Linked DNA regions of Homo sapiens: region 1 is linked to region 2. The links come from fine-mapping of genetic effects on gene expression. A gene starts in region 2. The other region holds a variant in brackets. All regions are shown on one strand. Distances are from middle to middle. Region 1 overlaps CRACDL (CRACD like). Region 2 holds the start of LIPT1 (lipoyltransferase 1).

Region 1 (5,376 bases), 240 kb after region 2:
ACAAAGAAAATGTGATATATATACACAGTGGAATACTATTCAGCCATAAAAAGGATGAAAGCATATCTTTTCCAGCAACATGAATGGAACTGGAGGCCATTATCTTAAGTGAAATAACTTAGAAAGACAAAATACCCCATGTTCTCACTTATAAATGAGAGCGAAATAATGCGTATACATGGACATAGAGCGTGGAATGATAGACATTGACAACTGGGAAGGATTAATGGGTGAGAGATGAGCAACTACCTACTGGGTACAATGTTTGGGTGATGGTTACACTAAAAGCCCAGACTTCACTACACAATATATCCATGTAACAAAATTGTGCTTGTACCCTTTAAATGTATACACATTTTTAAAAAGGAATTTGCTCGTAAAAGGAGAAATAAATGTCAGTAAGTGTGAGAAAGTCAATCTTACATTAATCAAGTAGGTGCCTATTAAAGTAAGATACTATTTTTTGCTATTAAATTGACAAATTTGTGGTGTGCTTTGCTTTTGTTTGTTTGTTTTTGTGAACGATGGTACTCAATGCATGTGAAAGTGTTTGGCAAGGACTCTCATATGCCTTGGGAGAGGAAGCTGCAAGCTTTCTGCCAAGCAGTTTGGCAGGATGTCTCAAACCCTTTAAAAGAATTCCTCCCTTTATCCTGGGGATTCCATTTCTAGGAATTTATCCCAAGGAAACAATTAAATCTGCAGTCCAAAATTCCTATGCAAGGATGTTCATCACAATGTTACATATAAAGGTGCAGATTTGGAAGGAATTTGAACATCCAATGATGGGGAATGAGTCATTCGTCTGCCGGAGTGCAGTGAGGCCCTTAGGAACATTTCTAAAGGATGCTTAGTCACAAGGGAATGAGGGAACTTCATGATCTAAGGCTAAATGAAGAAGGCAGGAAGGATAGTGGGCCGAGCCGGAGGGAGAAGAAGGCCCATGGGGAAGAGGCAGGGGCCAGTGCCAAGATAGGAGACAGAAGGTGCAGGATGTGTTGGAGGGCAGGCTCAGCTTCATTTCATTCAGATTCCCTTTAGTAAATTCTGATTGAGCAGATACTGGGTGCAAAGTACTGTCATTTAGGCTCAGTTTAGCAAAGGAGATGGTTTGGGTGAAGTATACCGAAGGACAGGTGCTGACCCCGGGTAGGCTCTTGCTCAGGGCAACAGGCAGCTGCTCTGCCCTGTGTCCATGCCCCCACTCAGGGACTCGCTCCTCTCCTGGCCTCTCACCCCTTCTCTGGGGAGCTGCTGTCTTCACCTCCTCTTCCCAGGGTGCATAGAACTTTTAAAATTAAAAAGAAGAAAAAAAATTCAGGATAATAAAACTTTTTAAAAAGAGAGGTTGTATCCTACATTAAAAAAAATGATATTTATGTGTGGGAGTAGGGAAAAGACTGGAAGGAAACATATAAAAATGAGATTTCTGGTTAGCTGTGATAGAATTATGGGAGATTTCATATCTTTCTATATTTTTATAATCAGCATTTTTTAAAAAAAACAGCTTTATTGAGGTATCATTGACATATAATCTGCACACATTTAAAGTGCACAGTTTCATACATCTTGATATATGTATATACCTGTGAAACCAACACCATGATCAAGATAGTGCACGTACCCATCTTCCCCAAAATTCCTCATGCACGTCCATAATCCCTCCCCAGATCCCCTGTAGGGCAACCCCTGGTCCACTCTCTATCCCTATTACTCAGTTCACACTGTTTCCTAGGATTTGGCTTAAATGGAATCGTGCGCTTTTTGGCTTCTTCCAGCCCATGATTATTTTGTGATTCATCCATGTAGTTGTGTGTGTCAGTGGTTTCTTCCTTTCTGTTGCTACGAAGTATTACATTGTGTGGGCATAGTACAGTTTTTCTAATCCAATGAATCACTTGATAATTAGGAAAGTCTCCCCTTTTTGTAAGCATGCCCAGAGATTGGCTAGGGTCCTGGGAGTTTGGATCTGTGCCATCCGTCTGTCTCTGTAAGTTTGGGACAGTTCCTCAGGCCTGGCCCAGTGACCCTGAGGGCAATGGCCCGGCCAGCCCAGTGGGCACCTGGGCTGTCATTCGTCAAACACAAGGCTTGGCCATGCCTTGAAACACTCAAGCTGCCTAGAAAGCATGTCCTCATGGTCAGAGCTTTGATTTGGGTGCCAGGAGGTTTAGTGGTGGTCAGCGGATGTGCTTAGTAATTGCCTTTGTGCCTTGCCTCGGTGGGAGAGTTGGAGAAAGCTTGATGTCTTGTCCGAAGTTGGTGTTGCCTAACTTCCACGTGTCACTCATGCCCTTGCCTACACCTATGTGTGGCTCACAGCTATTTCCCCCACCCCCAGCAGGCAGCCCACCCTCTCTGAAGAGCAGTCCCCTCTTTGCCTGCCCAGTGCAGCCCCTACCATCACTCTGTGGCTCTCGTCCTTCACCTGGCAGAGCTGATGGCTGTCCCTCTGTGATCTAGGTGACTTTCATGAGGTCTCCCTGTCTCTTGGATTAGCACAGACCCAGGCAGCTCCTCCAGGGCTCCACAGCAAGTCATGTTCCACCAGTCCCCGGGCATCCCTGGTCCCTATGGTCCCATGGCCTGCTCCCTGCCCTGTGCCTTGCCCCACTCATCTCTGAGGGTTCCAGGAGGTGCCTCCCACACACTCAGAAAAGAAACTGCTATGATACCTGCTCCGGTCAGCTCCTGGCACTGCCTCCAGGGCTGAAAGGGAGGACTTAGCCTGTGCTGTTCCGTGTAGAAAGGGGCAGGTGGCCAGCACCTCTCCAGCACTCTGTGCCCCCTTGTCTCTGAGCCTGAGTCTCCTCAGGTCTGGCACGTGATGTCCTTTTCTGCCTTCTCTTATCACTCCAAGCATGAGTTGGACCCAGTCCTGTCCTGGTCGACCTTCCTCCCCTCATTATTTCTCTACTTTGAGCAGCCTTTGCCAACCCCCTCAAAACCACTCATACTGGCAGGGACCTGTGACTGTGAACAGAGGCTGGTGCCAAGACCCTGGGTCTTCTAGACCCGGGGACTCTGGACAGCACCTCTTTGCCCACTGGACACCCTCCAACTGCAAACAGCATCTCCTGGGGCTGGGCCCTGCTCTGGGAGCAGCCTTCCCCTTCTTCTCTCTCAGGGGCCTGGAGTCCTGGGATGGTGCTGTCTAACCGGGCACAGGAGGAAGAGAGGCTGGCTGCCCAGGGACTCCCTCTGGAGGAGTGCTAGTGGACCTGTGCCCGGAGCCGCCCAGCCTCAGGCCTCAGTCCATGTCCCCACGTTCAGCAGAGACACTGATGGAGGGGTCTGTTGGCAGGAGAGCCCCAGTTGTGGGGCCAGCGTGAAGCTCCATGAGGTCGCCAGCCGGCTCCCCAGAAGCAGGCGAAGGCTGGTGGGGGGCAGGGGACAGAGCTCCTCTGTGCCCTGC[G/T]CAAGCTCCTGTCTTTAAAAAAGTCTCCCTTGAAGAGGATGGAAACTAACAGTAAGCTGTCCTGGCCCATATCCAGCCATGTAATCTTAGAGCCCCCCACCTCAGCGGGGACAGGACTCAACTTCCGTAACCTGATGTCTGGGTGAGGGCTGCAGGCTCTGCTGGAAGCTACTGCAGGGCTCCTCCTCATGCTGTGGGCTCAGGCTTGGGCCCCAACCTTGAGGGGAGGGTGGAGGGAGTGAGGGGGTAGGGTCCAGCCCAGGAAACAGGCCTGTGAGGAGGTGGTGCTCCTTGCTGTGGGGGGCTGGGAGCTGGGCCAGCAGGACCCTGCGAGTTGCTCAAGGGCCCCTTCCCATGTCTGCAATTACAATTACCTCTGAAGTGAAGAGCTTCACCAACACAGTCACCTGGGTCCTTGGGGCTCCTGCCTCCTCCCCCTACCTGGCTCCTGCCTCGGCTTCCTGGCTCCTAGTCATGAGAGGGGCATGGGCAGGCAGCCAGCCTCTTACTGGCCAGATGATGCTGAAAGCCTGCATTGCAGAGGTGATTGCTTAGCCTTTCAACAGGGCACATACAATGCCCATTCTGGGAGGGAGGCAGCCGAGGCTTCCATGCATTCAGGACCTCCCCAGGTCCTAGGGCTGCGCATAAAGCGTAAACCATGGAGTTGGGTCTGAAGCTGGCTTTATATTCTCCCCATCTCATCCTACTGGGTTGCTGCAGGATCACCTGCCCCAGGCCAGGTGCCTTGCCAGGGCTCTCACATAGCTTAGCTGATTGCATCCTGTAAACAACCCTGCAAGAAAAGGATTGCCTGAATCTTCATTCTAACGACTGGGGAGGCTCAGAGCGTGTAGGTCACTTGCACAGCCATGTACATTTGCTAGGGCTTTCTGCTCCCGAAGACCATGCTTTCCGTGACTCCTCAGATGCCCAGACTTGCCTTTGGGTGGGAGGTGTGGTCCTGAGTGACTAAGGGACTCCTGGGTGAGTCCATCGGCTTGGCCCTCTGCCTGCACCCTCCAATCTATCTCCTCCCAGCCAGCCCCGTGGGTCCTTCCCAGTCTGACCACAGTGCTTCTTGTGTCTGAGCCCTTCCCCACACTCCCCACAGGCTCCAGTCTTGTACTCCCTGTTCCCCAAGCACTCCCCTACCACAGGCCTCACACCTGTGTCCTCTCTGCCCAGGGACCTGCCCCGCTGGCTGACTGCCCACGGACCACCCTGAGTAGCTTTGCCAGCTCTCTTCCCTTCCCACCCCCCGACAGAGGTGACCGTTCTCATGTGGCTTCCCTCTAGACAGCACTCCACACACTTCCTTTACAAGTGGGTTACAGACATGCCTGTCTGCCTCCTGCACAGACTGAGGATTCTCAAGGGTGGGGATGGCACCTTAGGTTCTGGCATACTCAGAGGGAGAGCACATAGTAGGTCTTCAGGAAAAGGTTTTCAAATAAGATTGCATTGAACTTCTGGAGGCAAATTATCTCCCTTCTTTTCTGATCAAATGGTTTTTATGTTTGGGAAATGTGGCGGTAGTGTAAGAATTTGCCACATGCTGAAATAGGTCTCAGTGATAAAGAGTAACAGGTTTAATTTTTAATTCCAGGTTTTAACTCCATGATTGTGTGCTATGAGTATATGGCTGCATGTCTCAAGAAATTCACTGGCTTTAAAATGTGGGCTTAGCTACTGCCAGTATGATTTGATGAAAGCGGATAGAGGTCTCAGATCCACCCCCGGATTCCACCGTCAGGCCCAAGGACGGACCCCTGGCCATTGACTGATGCCAAGTGGGTGCCTGGCAGCAGCCTTCCTTCCCATCCCTGCTTCTGGACGCCTCAGCCGTGAGTCAGAGCATGTGCAGCGTGGGCTTGTGCGGGTGGCAGGGAGCCCAGAATTAGCTCAGCTGCGTTTCAGCAAGGCTGCAATGGGGAGGGGGAGGCTGTGCCAGGCGGGGG
Region 2 (5,376 bases):
AAAGCTAGGGCAGTAGGTAGAAAGGAATGTGGAGTTAGGAGAGGACTTAAGATGCAATAGATCTGAGCATGTTTAGATGCTGGTAGGGGAGTCAAGAGAGGGCAACACTGGAGAAGGGAGGTCCTTGAGAAAGTGATGGTACTGGGATCCAGAGTTCAGGTAGGGGCAGCCTTAAAGGAGAAAGTAACAAATAGGAGTGGTGGTCACTAATAAGCTGGATGGTGTCTGTGGATATGGAAATTGTCAAAGATCTTGTGAAATATCTTTTCCCAAGATTAAGGCTCTTACTCTTGTCTGCATGTGCAGAGTGTGGCAGGATGGCAAAGTAGTTAAGGACTTAAATTTTTAATCCTGGCTCTGCCACTTACTAATGACTTTAGGGAAGTGGTTTAACCTCTAGCTGCTTCAGTGGCCTCAGACGTCATAAAATGGTTGAGAGAATTAAATGTGTTAATATGCATAAGCCATTCATGTTTGGCAAATATGAAATGTTAACTGTTATGACAGGGTTCTCCCTTTCCCATCTCTATTCTGTGCTTACTGTTCCTATCATATACCATGTATTCCCTCAAGTGAACAAAGATTCCTAACCAAGACACATCAAAGTGGCATTTACCTTGATAAATTAACTATAGTCCAAGATATTGACTTTGGTCAAAAATGTGATCTTGTTAGGGTTCCAGAATTGATCCAATTCATGTATTGAGCCAATGCATGTATTTTAATAGTGCTAAAAATATCTCTCTTCATCCAGGTATTGTATATACAGTGTGAATAAAACACAACAAAGGTATTAATTCAACAAAGTTTTCATCAATTACATGACAGACATTGTTCTTAGCACTTGGGAATCATCAGTGAGTCAAATGAATAAAGGTGATAAGGAGGGCTATTAAAAAAAGTAGATGGCCGGGCGAGGTGGTTCACACCTGTAATCCCAGCACTTTGGGAGGCCAAGGTGGACAGATCACCTGAGGTCAGGAGTTTGAGACCAGCCTGGCCAACATGGTGAAACCCCGTCTCTACCAAAAATACAAAAATTACCTGGGCGTGGTGGCAGGCGCCTGTAATCTCAGCTACTCGGGAGGCTGAGGCAGGAGAATCGCTTGAACCCGGGAGGTGGAGGTTTCAGTGGGCCGAGATGGGCTGGGCAACAGAGCGAGATTCAGTCTATTAAAAAAAAATGTAGAGCTGATAAAGGGAGGATTGTAACTGTGTATGTGAGAAAACTTACATTGCAATTTTAAATAGGGTTGTTAGGCTAAGCCTCATTAAAAAGGCATCATGTGAGAAAAGATGCAAGAAGCTGTTCTAAGCACCTGAACACGTAAACCAATAAACAGACCTCAGTGAGGATGTGACATTTCAGTTGAACCCCGAAAGATAAGAAAAAATCACACAGAGTGAGAAAAAGTGAAAACAAAGGGATGTCCAAAAATCCCTGACTGCCAGCTTATTGATTTACAAAGAGAACTATAGACCATCTATCAGATATTCAGATGAGCCTGTGCAATTATTCACTGTAGGTCTGGTGACAAGCCAACTCTTAAGTTTGCTTGGTGAATACATAATCAGAAAAGGACTGAGTTACATGATATGAACGTCTGACGGAATGGGCTCTGGGGAAGACACTTCCTTAACTCAGGAGAGCCCCTGCTCTTAAGCCGGGATACCCTCTCTCCCCTAGAGAAGGCGTGGATTCATCTGGCACAGGTGTGCCCCTCTTTTTTTATTCTATGCTCCAGTAGCGGATCAGACCCCGACTGAGTAATGCACGGTATTTCAGGATATTTCACAGTCGTTGGGATAGTGTCAAGCCTTTGAAGTTCTGGTTAAATTTTGTTCCTTCAAAATCACTTTGAATCTTTCTACTCTCACCCTTTAATGACTAATTTTTTGAAGTTTTTCCTCGGAAGACTTCCTTACCTTCCATGTTCTTGGGACACTTCGCTACCTCTGCACTGCCAAACACGGCTCCCCATCACTGAACTGAAAGCGAAAACAGCACAATCCCATCTATCTTTCTAGGCAGGCGCAGCTTCTTCATAAGACCTCGCCAAGACCCTATTATTTTGTCCCCTCTCTAATGATATACAACTTACTCAGAATCTCATTACGGTCGTGTGCATGTTTTACTTCGCCCTTTTGGCTCCCAGGGGGCGTGCACACAGCTAGCGTCCAACATGTTTTACGATATTTACCCTCCCTCCTGTGTTCGGGATCAACCGTTCCTAACAGTGAAATTAGGTCGTCCCAAGTGCTGAGGAGAAAGTGTGCACACAAGAGGCTTCAACACCGGCGGAGGCGACCCGCAAGTCCTGACCCACCGCCAGAAACACCGCGCGCGCCCAAGACCCCACGGCCGCCCACGCGCTACGGCCCGCAACATCCCGGTTTGAAGCGTTTCCGCTTCACCCACCTGCGGCTTCCGGTCGTACCCACGGCCTCGTGAGGGCTCGAGCTGGAAAAGTGCGTCATACGACCCCGAGCAACCGGCAGGCCTTGCGCGCGATGCTGCCCCGCCCCCTGAGGGCCGGCCCCCTGAAGCGCAAGAGAAGGAGGGGCGCGCAGGGATCGCGCCTAGTCTCTCCGCCTGCGGAGCCGTGGGGTCCCGGCAGCCCGCAGGAGTGCTAAGTAAGGGTCCTTCAGGGCGGGAACCAGGTTCCAGGCAGGGACGCAGGCTACGTTCGAATAAAAGTACCGAAGGTCATAAGGCCCCAGTTCAGATGGGACTTCCCCGCGTGACAGCACAGAGATAACGGCCAGCCCTGGGCGAAGGTAGGAGAGCGGGCGTGCCAGGTTGGAGGGGTCATTTCGTGGAGCGAGTTTAGGGGGAGCCCCCAGAAGCCCAGAGCAGTCAGGTCACACGACGGGCAGGAAGGAGTACCAGCAAATACTTTTTATTGAGCATACAGGTATTACGCTGGGTCTTTACATATCTCCTCCAAATAAGTGAGTCCAAATGGCAGGTAACTCGAAAGGTGAGAAATTCAAGTCAGCTTTGAAAGACACATTGCATTTAAAGGAAAAACGGTATTCGCAGATGATAATACAGGATGGAGTGGATCAGAAAACACACTGAGGCTACTGATCATTCCCATTTGCCAACTCACTGCAGTTGGCAAGAAAACTCTGTGACTCCATGAGATGGGAAATTACACCAGCAGTCAAGGTAGCAAGGTAATAGTTTCGGCTAAGTTTTGCTGCATAACAAACTGCCTCAAATAGTGGTTTATATCTCTAACGTGGGCAAGGTGGGTGATTCTTCTGCTAGTTTCTCCTGGGCATATTCATGTGGCTTCATTCAGCACAGGTTGGCTACGCTGGGCGGTCCAAGATAGCCTTATTCATGCTCTGGCAGGTGCTGCCTGGCTGCTAGGGCATCTCAATTCAGGCCTAATCTTGGAAGCAGCGCCTCAGCCATATTCTATTGGCCAAAACAACAACAAAGCCAGCCCAGAGTTAAGGCGTGGGGTAATGGACTTCACCTCTTGATGAAAGAAGCCCAAAGAATTTGTGGTCACCTTTTTCAACCTTGCACAGAAATTAATCTCTCCTTCAGTTAAAATAGAAACCACTAAGACTTGCCTCTTGGAGTAAGAATCATTCAGTGTTCAGTTTGCTGATGCTGATACGGTAAATGACCAGGGCTTCATATAAAGCTACAATGAAGACATAATGACACCTCCTTTCTTTATTATCACACCTTTTACCAAGGTCACTCTGAGTAAGTCTATCTTGTATTATGCAGGTGGGAATGAATTTTGTTCAGAGTTAACTGCACTAGGAATTTTCCTAGTTATTATTAAAAACAGTCACAGAATATTGTTGCTCTTTGCTTATATTACTTCCTTCTAAATTCCCTTTCTCTGAAATCTGAGATGGTACAACTTTGGTTTTTTTTCCTAGTTTCTTGATGAAGAGGTTTTAAAGAATCCCATTCCCTCCTCCCTGCTCCAGGACTTCTGTCCCTTGGTTATTCTTACCTTTACCTACTTCTTCAGCTTCTCCACTGGAACCTTTCAAGTGACACTCAAACATGCTGTACTCTTTAACAATCCTCCAGTGACCTCATTTCTCTTTCCACTTGTCATCCTGTCTGCTACCCTTCTGAGCCAAGCTTCTTGGAAAAACTGCTATACATCCAGTATCTACTTTCTCACTTCCCATTCATTGTTTCAACGTACTCCAAAATGGCTTTTCCCCATTATTCCAGCAAAAGTGCTTTTGCTAAGGTCACGGGTGACATTCATATTGCTAGATCCACTGGACTTTTCAGTATTCATCTAAGTGTTCATTTGACTACCTCAACCTGGAGATTCCTGTGGACAACTTTGACATTACCCTGTCAACTCCTCAGTCCCTTTTGCCAGGTTTTCCTCCAGCCTCACTGCCAACTCCGCAGTCCCCTTTGCCAGCTACCCTGATCTAGTCAGCCCTAAATGTTGGAGTTCCTCAGATCTTTATCTCACACTACATTTTCCTTAAGCAATTTCATTCATTCTATGGCTCTAAGTACCATTTCTGTATACAACTTCAAAATTTATATTTTTTAGTTCCATAGATACAACTGCCTTGTAAACCTGGTAAGTCTAAAAGCCATGCTCCTGAACTCACTCTTTCCCCCCAGGGATCCTGCATGCATAAAGGCTAAAGCCTTTTTTGCCAGAAGCCCTTTCTTCTTCCTCACTTTCCGCTTCCAAACCATGACTACATCCTGTCAGACTTCACCTGGACTCTATCCCCTTCTCTCCACTTTTATGACCATCACCATCATTCACTTAGACAACCATGTCACTGCAAAAGCTATAAATGTCCTCAGAGGCTGCTCTATGGAGTAGCCATTCTGTTTCTTTACTTTCTTAATCAACTTGCTTTCAAAAATGTCCTGAGATACGCTTTCCCATTTCCCACGTTAAAATCAAGTTTATGGCCCAGTGGGAGGATCACCTGAGGCCAGGAGTTTGAGACCAGTCTGGGTAACATTGTAAGACTCTGTCTCTAAAAAAATACAAAAACATGCTGGGTATGGTGGCACATGCCTGTAATCCTAGCTACTAGGAGGCTGAGGCAGGAAGATCGCTTAAGAACAGGAATTCGACACTGCACTGAGCTATGATCGCTCCACTGCACTCCAGCCTGGGCAACAGAGTGAGACCATCTTAAAAAAAATCAGTTTTATGTGGTATGTCTTGTGTTGTGTTATGTCCCTCTGAATGCTATACGTTTCTTCATGGCATATCACAATTTGCATCTTATATAATTACTGTATAATCTCCTGTCTTTCCTAGTAGACAGGCACAAAACTCTACAAGGCACTGGCTATTTTATTCACTACTGTATCTCCAGCACCAAGCACAGTGCCAGGCTAGGTGA

Evidence for each region. PIP is the estimated chance that this variant, and not a neighbour inherited with it, causes the effect.
Region 1: its variant is the best candidate, but not a certain one, in a credible set for the expression of LIPT1 in whole blood (TOPMed, PIP 0.59).

What each region holds. Positions count from the first base shown.
Region 1 is chr2:98,912,634-98,918,009 of GRCh38, reverse strand. All of the region lies in intron 1 of CRACDL (CRACD like), which reads left to right. Among named protein-coding and RNA genes, the nearest start is that of CRACDL, 21 kb to the left of the region's middle. RefSeq lists a silencer at 590-884 and an enhancer at 4,853-5,376. The variant G/T (reference allele first, on the strand shown) is at 3,416.
Region 2 is chr2:99,152,095-99,157,470 of GRCh38, reverse strand. LIPT1 (lipoyltransferase 1) reads right to left here and starts at 2,504. Exons shown (of 2, transcript NM_145199.3): 1 at 2,420-2,504. It overlaps TSGA10 (testis specific 10), which reads left to right and starts at 2,529. Exons shown (of 21, transcript NM_025244.4): 1 at 2,529-2,778. RefSeq lists enhancers at 1,927-1,976, 2,007-2,086, 2,167-2,366, 2,397-2,626, 2,687-2,886 and 1 more.